2 linked regions of the Homo sapiens genome follow. The protein of the gene in region 2 purifies or fractionates together with the protein of the main gene of each other region. This does not show direct contact. Each region holds a gene or a part of one and is shown on either strand. Other genes may lie near its edges. The genes, in order: MYH7 and ECD.

The links.
Region 1: the proteins of ECD (region 2) and MYH7 purify together in Homo sapiens (affinity purification with mass spectrometry; 2 studies listed by BioGRID and IntAct, with this or other methods). This does not show direct contact.

Annotation. Positions count from the first base shown.
Region 1 is NC_000014.9:23,414,907-23,418,820, reverse strand, and holds part of MYH7 (myosin-7), read left to right. Parts: intron 1-414; coding exon 415-611; intron 612-757; exon of another isoform or gene 758-834; intron 835-1,134; coding exon 1,135-1,318; intron 1,319-1,447; exon of another isoform or gene 1,448-1,502; coding exon 1,503-1,668; intron 1,669-1,812; exon of another isoform or gene 1,813-1,828; coding exon 1,829-1,953; intron 1,954-2,508; coding exon 2,509-2,817; exon of another isoform or gene 2,818-2,820; intron 2,821-2,988; coding exon 2,989-3,192; exon of another isoform or gene 3,193-3,200; intron 3,201-3,314; coding exon 3,315-3,440; intron 3,441-3,550; coding exon 3,551-3,826; intron 3,827-3,914. UniProt on the Homo sapiens protein: Myosins are actin-based motor molecules with ATPase activity essential for muscle contraction. Forms regular bipolar thick filaments that, together with actin thin filaments, constitute the fundamental contractile unit of skeletal and cardiac muscle.
Region 2 is NC_000010.11:73,140,201-73,144,114, forward strand, and holds part of ECD (protein ecdysoneless homolog), read right to left. Parts: intron 1,286-3,914; coding exon of another isoform or gene 1,187-1,285; intron 1-1,186. UniProt on the Homo sapiens protein: Regulator of p53/TP53 stability and function. Inhibits MDM2-mediated degradation of p53/TP53 possibly by cooperating in part with TXNIP. May be involved transcriptional regulation. In vitro has intrinsic transactivation activity enhanced by EP300.

The sequences.
Region 1 (3,914 bases), on a different chromosome or scaffold from region 2:
TATTCCTAGCACTTTGCTGGACTCATGAAAAAGGAGAAAGAACATGATTTTTAAAAAACTCCAGGGTTCATACTAACCTGCCTCTTATAGCTCAGTGATCTTAGGTTAGGGAAGTCCCCTAACCTTTCTGAGCCTGTTTCCCTCTCCCCAGCCAGGTAAAATGGCGGTGATGATGACCATGTCTGGTGTGGGGAGGAGCTCAGGGCCAATGGCCATGAAGCTTTTCTTAAATAGTTCACTGCTGTATTGGCATTCTTTGTTATCAGCAAACAGTAAACCATGACAGGTCCACTGGGGGTTTGGACATAGATGAGGCCAAGGGATGATGTTGAGATTGGGGTGAGGAGAAGGGCAAGGGTGGGGTTGCTTTATGGAGAAAGCTGAACCCACCTCCTGGTGCCCACCCCTCCCCAGGCGAAGAACGCCCTGGCCCACGCACTGCAGTCGGCCCGGCATGACTGCGACCTGCTGCGGGAGCAGTACGAGGAGGAGACGGAGGCCAAGGCCGAGCTGCAGCGCGTCCTTTCCAAGGCCAACTCGGAGGTGGCCCAGTGGAGGACCAAGTATGAGACGGACGCCATTCAGCGGACTGAGGAGCTCGAGGAGGCCAAGTGAGTTCTGAGCAGCCTGACTTCTGGCTGAGGCCCCTTTGCAGGCAGGACTCAGCCCAGCCCCAGCCTCAGCAGATCCCACACAGGCGATGCTTAGCTAGTGTTTGACAACACAGGAGGACTCTGCCCCGGCCCCACCTCCTTCTCCTCTCAGGGAAGCTTTTTGCTCGAATTATGTTTCTGATCCGAATATAAGACGAACAAAAGGTTTGTCTGAGGGCAGAGTGCTTCCGTCTGGGGCAGGGCACTGTGGCAGGGAAAGGCAGTGGGGAGGGCTGCAGAAGCCCATACCTCCTCAATGTCCATAGCGCAGAGGCTGGGCCAGGGTCAGAGGGTGCCTGGGTCTCCACGCCCTGCTGGGATCCTCTGCCTGATGTTCTCGGCCCCTGGGACCTGTCCTCAGGCTTCTCCAGCTACACTTCTGAGGTTTCAAGGATTGTCTTTGAGAAGGTTCATGTTGTTTCCTCTTGTCCCCATCCACACCCTCCATCCTCCCCACCCTCTGCCACCCTCCCCTGGGCAGGAAGAAGCTGGCCCAGCGGCTGCAGGAAGCTGAGGAGGCCGTGGAGGCTGTTAATGCCAAGTGCTCCTCGCTGGAGAAGACCAAGCACCGGCTACAGAATGAGATCGAGGACTTGATGGTGGACGTAGAGCGCTCCAATGCTGCTGCTGCAGCCCTGGACAAGAAGCAGAGGAACTTCGACAAGGTGGGCCCTGGGTGGGGGCCGCAGCCAGCATGCAGGGCAAGGGGGCATGAGGGGTTCAGTGAGAGGCCAGAGCCATCCTCCTTGGAGGTGGGGGAGGAGGGCTGAGCCCAGGCAGGTCCTGAGACAGACCCTGGACATGGGGCTGAGGCTGGGGGGCTGAAGAGTGAGCCTTGTCCCCGGGCAGATCCTGGCCGAGTGGAAGCAGAAGTATGAGGAGTCGCAGTCGGAGCTGGAGTCCTCGCAGAAGGAGGCTCGCTCCCTCAGCACAGAGCTCTTCAAACTCAAGAACGCCTATGAGGAGTCCCTGGAACATCTGGAGACCTTCAAGCGGGAGAACAAAAACCTGCAGGGTGTGCTGGGGGCCCAAGAGGCTGGGGAGGGGCTGCACTGGCAGTGTTCCCATATGGTGCCACCCAAGGGCTCCAAGAGGCGTCTGGGCAAAGAGGCGTGTCCCTCCAACTCCACTGGACCTCAGCAGCCCTCAACCGAGTTACCGTGTTCCCCACACAGAGGAGATCTCCGACTTGACTGAGCAGTTGGGTTCCAGCGGAAAGACTATCCATGAGCTGGAGAAGGTCCGAAAGCAGCTGGAGGCCGAGAAGATGGAGCTGCAGTCAGCCCTGGAGGAGGCCGAGGTGTGTGTGTGTGCAGGGCACGGGGTGCAGGGAGCTGAGCTCCAGGCTTTTGGTCCCTGTTCTCATCCCCCGCTTTGTCCGTTTTGTTCACTGTCCCATCCCCAGAGCCTAGGACAGAGCCTGGCACATAGTAGGCATTCAGTGAAGATTTGTGGAGTGAATGAATGACCAGTCACTGAACTCTCTTCACATAAACATTTTACCCATTGCATCTTAGCTGAGCTTCCCATTTCCACATACCTCCCGGTTCCCACCTCTGCCTCCCTCTGTTTTCTTTTATACTCTATACCTGATTGCCTCTGTTTCCTTGGCAACACTTTTCTCTTCATTTTCCTCCTTGTCTTCATAGCTGGCTCTCCCCTGTGAGGGCCTGAATCACTTTCTCTTAGGCTTATTTTTATTTTCTCTTAGATTCTCTTTTCCTCCACCTTCTGCTTCTTTGAACCACTTACACCACTCTTGAAGTCACTTCGTATCCATGATTAGTGAGCAGGCCCCCACCCTGCCCTGTGCCCTGACTGTCTGCCTGCATCCCCTCCCCCAACCCCTTCCCAGGCCTCCCTGGAGCACGAGGAGGGCAAGATCCTCCGGGCCCAGCTGGAGTTCAACCAGATCAAGGCAGAGATCGAGCGGAAGCTGGCAGAGAAGGACGAGGAGATGGAACAGGCCAAGCGCAACCACCTGCGGGTGGTGGACTCGCTGCAGACCTCCCTGGACGCAGAGACACGCAGCCGCAACGAGGCCCTGAGGGTGAAGAAGAAGATGGAAGGAGACCTCAATGAGATGGAGATCCAGCTCAGCCACGCCAACCGCATGGCCGCCGAGGCCCAGAAGCAAGTCAAGAGCCTCCAGAGCTTGTTGAAGGTACTCACCCAGAGGGGACTGGCCTCCACGTGGCCTGGCGAAGCAGTAGTGTCTTGATACAGGCACCAGATTCCTCCTGCCCCTAGGTTACTGCAGGGACCTCTGACAGGTGCCTTTAGTGAAGGGAACCGAGGCTGGCTCCCTGCTCATGCCCACTCTCCTGATCCTCAGGACACCCAGATTCAGCTGGACGATGCAGTCCGTGCCAACGACGACCTGAAGGAGAACATCGCCATCGTGGAGCGGCGCAACAACCTGCTGCAGGCTGAGCTGGAGGAGTTGCGTGCCGTGGTGGAGCAGACAGAGCGGTCCCGGAAGCTGGCGGAGCAGGAGCTGATTGAGACTAGTGAGCGGGTGCAGCTGCTGCATTCCCAGGTGAGCAGCTCCCCTGCTCATTCCTGAAGGGAGCACAGGCTGGGGCTCAGCAAGCAAGGCTTGAGAGCTATGCATAGATGCTCAATGCTTTTCCTGCTCTGCCCAACCCTCCCCCAACCCAGAACACCAGCCTCATCAACCAGAAGAAGAAGATGGATGCTGACCTGTCCCAGCTCCAGACTGAAGTGGAGGAGGCAGTGCAGGAGTGCAGGAATGCTGAGGAGAAGGCCAAGAAGGCCATCACGGATGTAAGTCCCCCACTCCACCGACCCGATCCAGACCAGTGTCTCTCCGTGGGCTGGGCAGCAAGTGTGTGAGGACTTGACCAGACCATGTGCCACCTCTCTCCTGCACACAGGCCGCCATGATGGCAGAGGAGCTGAAGAAGGAGCAGGACACCAGCGCCCACCTGGAGCGCATGAAGAAGAACATGGAACAGACCATTAAGGACCTGCAGCACCGGCTGGACGAAGCCGAGCAGATCGCCCTCAAGGGCGGCAAGAAGCAGCTGCAGAAGCTGGAAGCGCGGGTGCGGGAGCTGGAGAATGAGCTGGAGGCCGAGCAGAAGCGCAACGCAGAGTCGGTGAAGGGCATGAGGAAGAGCGAGCGGCGCATCAAGGAGCTCACCTACCAGGTGCGACGGGCGGTGACTCCAGGCAGAGCCCTGGCACCATAGCCACAGTGACAACCAGCTGAGGAGAATGAAGAGTTTGCTCTTAGCC
Region 2 (3,914 bases):
TCTCGAACTCCTGACCTCATAATCCCCCTGCCTTGGCCTCCCAAAGTGCTGGGATTACAGACATGAGCCACCGCACCCAGCCTTCTAATTTGTTTTTAAGCATATTTTTAGGTTGCAGATCCCTTTTTCTCAAACAAAACTTTTACCAGGAACTCTAAAATACAGAAGGGGTCAAAGAAAAATGGCCTTCATTAAAGTGGAGGATAGGCCAGGCACAGTGGCTCATGCCTGTAATCCCAGCACTTTGGGAGGCCAAGGCGGGGAGATCACTTGAGGTCAGGAGTTCACTTGGCCAACATGGTGAAACCCCGTCTCTACTAAAAATACAAAAATTAGCTGGGCATTGTGGCACGTGCCTGTAATCCCAGCTACTCGGGAGGCTGAGGCAGGAGAATTGCTTGAACCCGGGAGGTGGAGGTTGCAGTGAGCTGCCCCAGCATGGGCGACTGAGCAAGACTCCATCTCAATAAATAAATAAAATAAAATAAAATAAAAATAAATAAATTGGAGGATAGAAGCTCAGAGATCTACACAATTGGCCTTCCTTTTTGGCTCTGAAGCAGGCTCCATGGAACATCATTATGAAGCCACTGATCTCGTATAATTCTTTCTATACATACATGCAGAGACAGGGTCTCTCTCTATATATGTATATATATGTACATACAGTTGTATTATGTTAATAGTACATATACATATAAAACACGTACTAAAAATACATAAAAATATACATATAATATATATTTTATATACGAGGAAAAGAAGATCCAGAAGGAAAGCATCAATTAAAATTTATCTAGCATGTATTAAATGCTATGCTAACACTTTAAATACATTTTCTTATTGAGTCCTTTTGTTACTATTATAGAAGGTAATAATCCTGTTTTACAGATGAGAAAACCAGAACCCAGGGAAGTTCTTTAACTTTTGCAAAGTCTGTATTACCCAGGAGGCGGAGGTTGCAGTGAGCCAGGATTGTGCCATTGCACTCCAGGCTGGGCGACAAGAGCGAGACTCCGTTGGCCGGGTGCGGTGGCTCACGCCTGTAATCCCAGCACTTTGGGAGGCCAAGGCGGGCGGATCACGAGGTCAGGAGATCGAGACCATCCTGGCTAACACAGTGAAACCCCGTCTCTACTAAAAAAAAAAAAAAAAAAAAAAATTAGCTGGGCGTGGTGGTGGGTACCTGTTGTCCCAGGTACTCAGGAGGCTGAGGCAGATGAATGGCGTGAACCCAGGAGGTGGAGCTTGCAGTAAGCCAGGATCGCGCCACTGCACCTCCAACCTGGGCACAGAGCAAGACTCCGTCTCAAAAAAAAAAGAGACTCCATAAAAAGAAAAAAAATCCTCATTCTTTAAGACTTAACTCAAATACCTCCTCCCTGAAGCCTTCCATTATCTTTCTTTTTTTAACATCTCTGCTTCAACCTTAGTGAAAGTTTATTACCTTCTCACTATGACTCTCTTTAGCATTTGATATTCCAGAATGATTTTTATTTTGCCTTTTGTTATGATTATTTGGTTTATTCTCTCTCCTAGTAACGTTTACATATTAATAATACAGAGTAGAGACAGTTCCCCATCACCTACGTGATTTTGCAAGGTATGCAAATGTTTATCCAATTAAAGCAAGTCCTTTATACAACTTGATTTGATCCATTCTTAATAGTTCAGACAGGGTGCCATCAATTTATGTAACAAATCATGTCACCATTATGTCACTCACTCAACACATAAGTATCTCTGTGCATAGTTTCTTTTTTTTCTTTTTCTAAGACAGGGTCTCACTCTGTCGCCTAGGCTAGAGTGCGTGGCATGATCACAGCTCACTGCAGCCTTGACTCTTGGGATCAAGCAATCTTCCTATCTCAGCAAGTAGCTGGGATTACAGGCATTAGCCACTGTGCCTGGCTATTTATTTATTTTTAATTTGAGTAGCTGGGATTACAGGTGCCCACCACCTCATCCGGCTAATTTTTTGTATTTGTAGTAGAGATGGGGTTTCACCATGTTGGCCAGGTTGGTCTCAAACTCCTGACCTCAGGTGATTCACCCATCTCGGTCTCCCAAAGTGCTGGGATTACAGGTGTGAGCCACTGTGCCCGGCCTATTTGTTTATTTTTAATTGACAAAAAAGTGTATAGGTTTATCATGTACCTTAAAAATATTGTAGAGATGTAATCCCAGCACTTTGGGAGGCTGAGGAGGGCAGATCACAGGTCAGGAGATCGAGACCATCCTGGCCAACATGGTGAAACCCTGTCTGTGCTAAAATACGAAAAGATTAGCCAGGTATGATGGCACGCGCCTGTAGTCCCAGCTACTCAGGAGGCTGAGGCAGGGGCATCGCTTGAACCCGGGAGGTGGAGGCTGCGGTGAGCTGAGATCGTGCCACTACACTCCAGCCTGGTGACAGAGAGAGACTCCATCTCAAAAAAAAAAAAAAAAAAAAAAATTGTAGAGAAAGCTAATGTTTCCTTTGATGACCACTGCCACCCATCCCAATCCATTGTCTTGCTCCCCAGAGGTGACTGCTTTCTCAAGTATACTTCGGCACTTTTCTCTCTCTCTGTATGTATATATATTTCTGTTTCTATTTCTTGTATTTGCTGTCTGTCCTTTTGCTGGAATGTTATTCCCCTAAATAACTGAATGTCTCACTCCTTCACTTCATTCAGGTCTCTTTTCAAAGAAAACTTCCTTAGAAAGGCCTTCCTTGACTAATCTATCTAGAAGAGCAGTCTCTACCCCTCTACCCCACACACTGCTTTTTCTTCATAGCACTTACCACCCCCTAATATTACATAATGGCTTGCGGTCTTTCTCCTACATTAGCATGTAAGCTCTATAAGGACAAGGACACTTTGGGTTCATTTATTATATCCCCAGTACCTGGAATAGGGCCTGGCACATAGGAGGCATTCAATAAATATTTGTTGAATAAATGAATATATATGTATCTATAAATAATGTATTGTTTTGTTTTGAGACGGAGTCTTGCTCTGTCACCTAGGCTGGAGTGCAGTGGTGCGATGTCGGCTCACTGCAACCTCCACCTCCAGGGTTCATGCGATTCTCCTGCCTCAGCCTCCCGAGCAGCTGGGATTACAGGGGCGTGCCAACACGCCCAGCTAATTTTTGAATTTTTAGTAGAGACAGGGTTTCCCATATTGGCCAGGCTGGTCTTGAACTCCTGACCTCGTGATCCACCCGCCTTGGCCTCCCAAAATGCTGGCATTACAGGTGTGAGCCACTGCGCCCAGCCTGTATAGTATTTTGTATATTTAAAATTTTTATATGTGTAACATCCACACGGTATATATTTTATTCTTTTTCATTTTCATTTTTAATTTTTGTGGGTACATAGTAGGTGTATATATTTATAGGGTATATGAGATGTTTTGATACAGGCATGTAATGTGAAATAAGTACATCATGGAGAATGGGGTATCCATCCTCTCAAGCATTTATCCTTCGAGTTACAAACAATCCAATTACACTCTATGTTAAATGTATAATTAAGTTATCATTGACTATAGTCACCCTGTTGTACTATCAAATAGTAGGTCTTACTCATTCGTTCTATTTTTTTTTTTTTTTGGTACCCATTACTGTACGTATTTATAACTTGCTTTTTTTTTTTTTTTCACTGCATTATGTTTTTGAAATCTATTCATTTAGATCAGTGGTTCCCATTTAGATCAGTGGTTCCCAACCAGGGACGATTTTGCCGCCCAGGTACCTCTGGCAATGTCTGGAGACATTTTTGGTTGTCATGATTGGGGGATGAGGGAGAAGTGCTATTGATATTTACTGGATAGAGGCCAGGGATGCTGTTAAATGTCCTATGAAGTGCAAGCCAGTCCCTCACAATAAATTATCAGATCCAAAATGTCAGTAGCACTGAGGTTGAA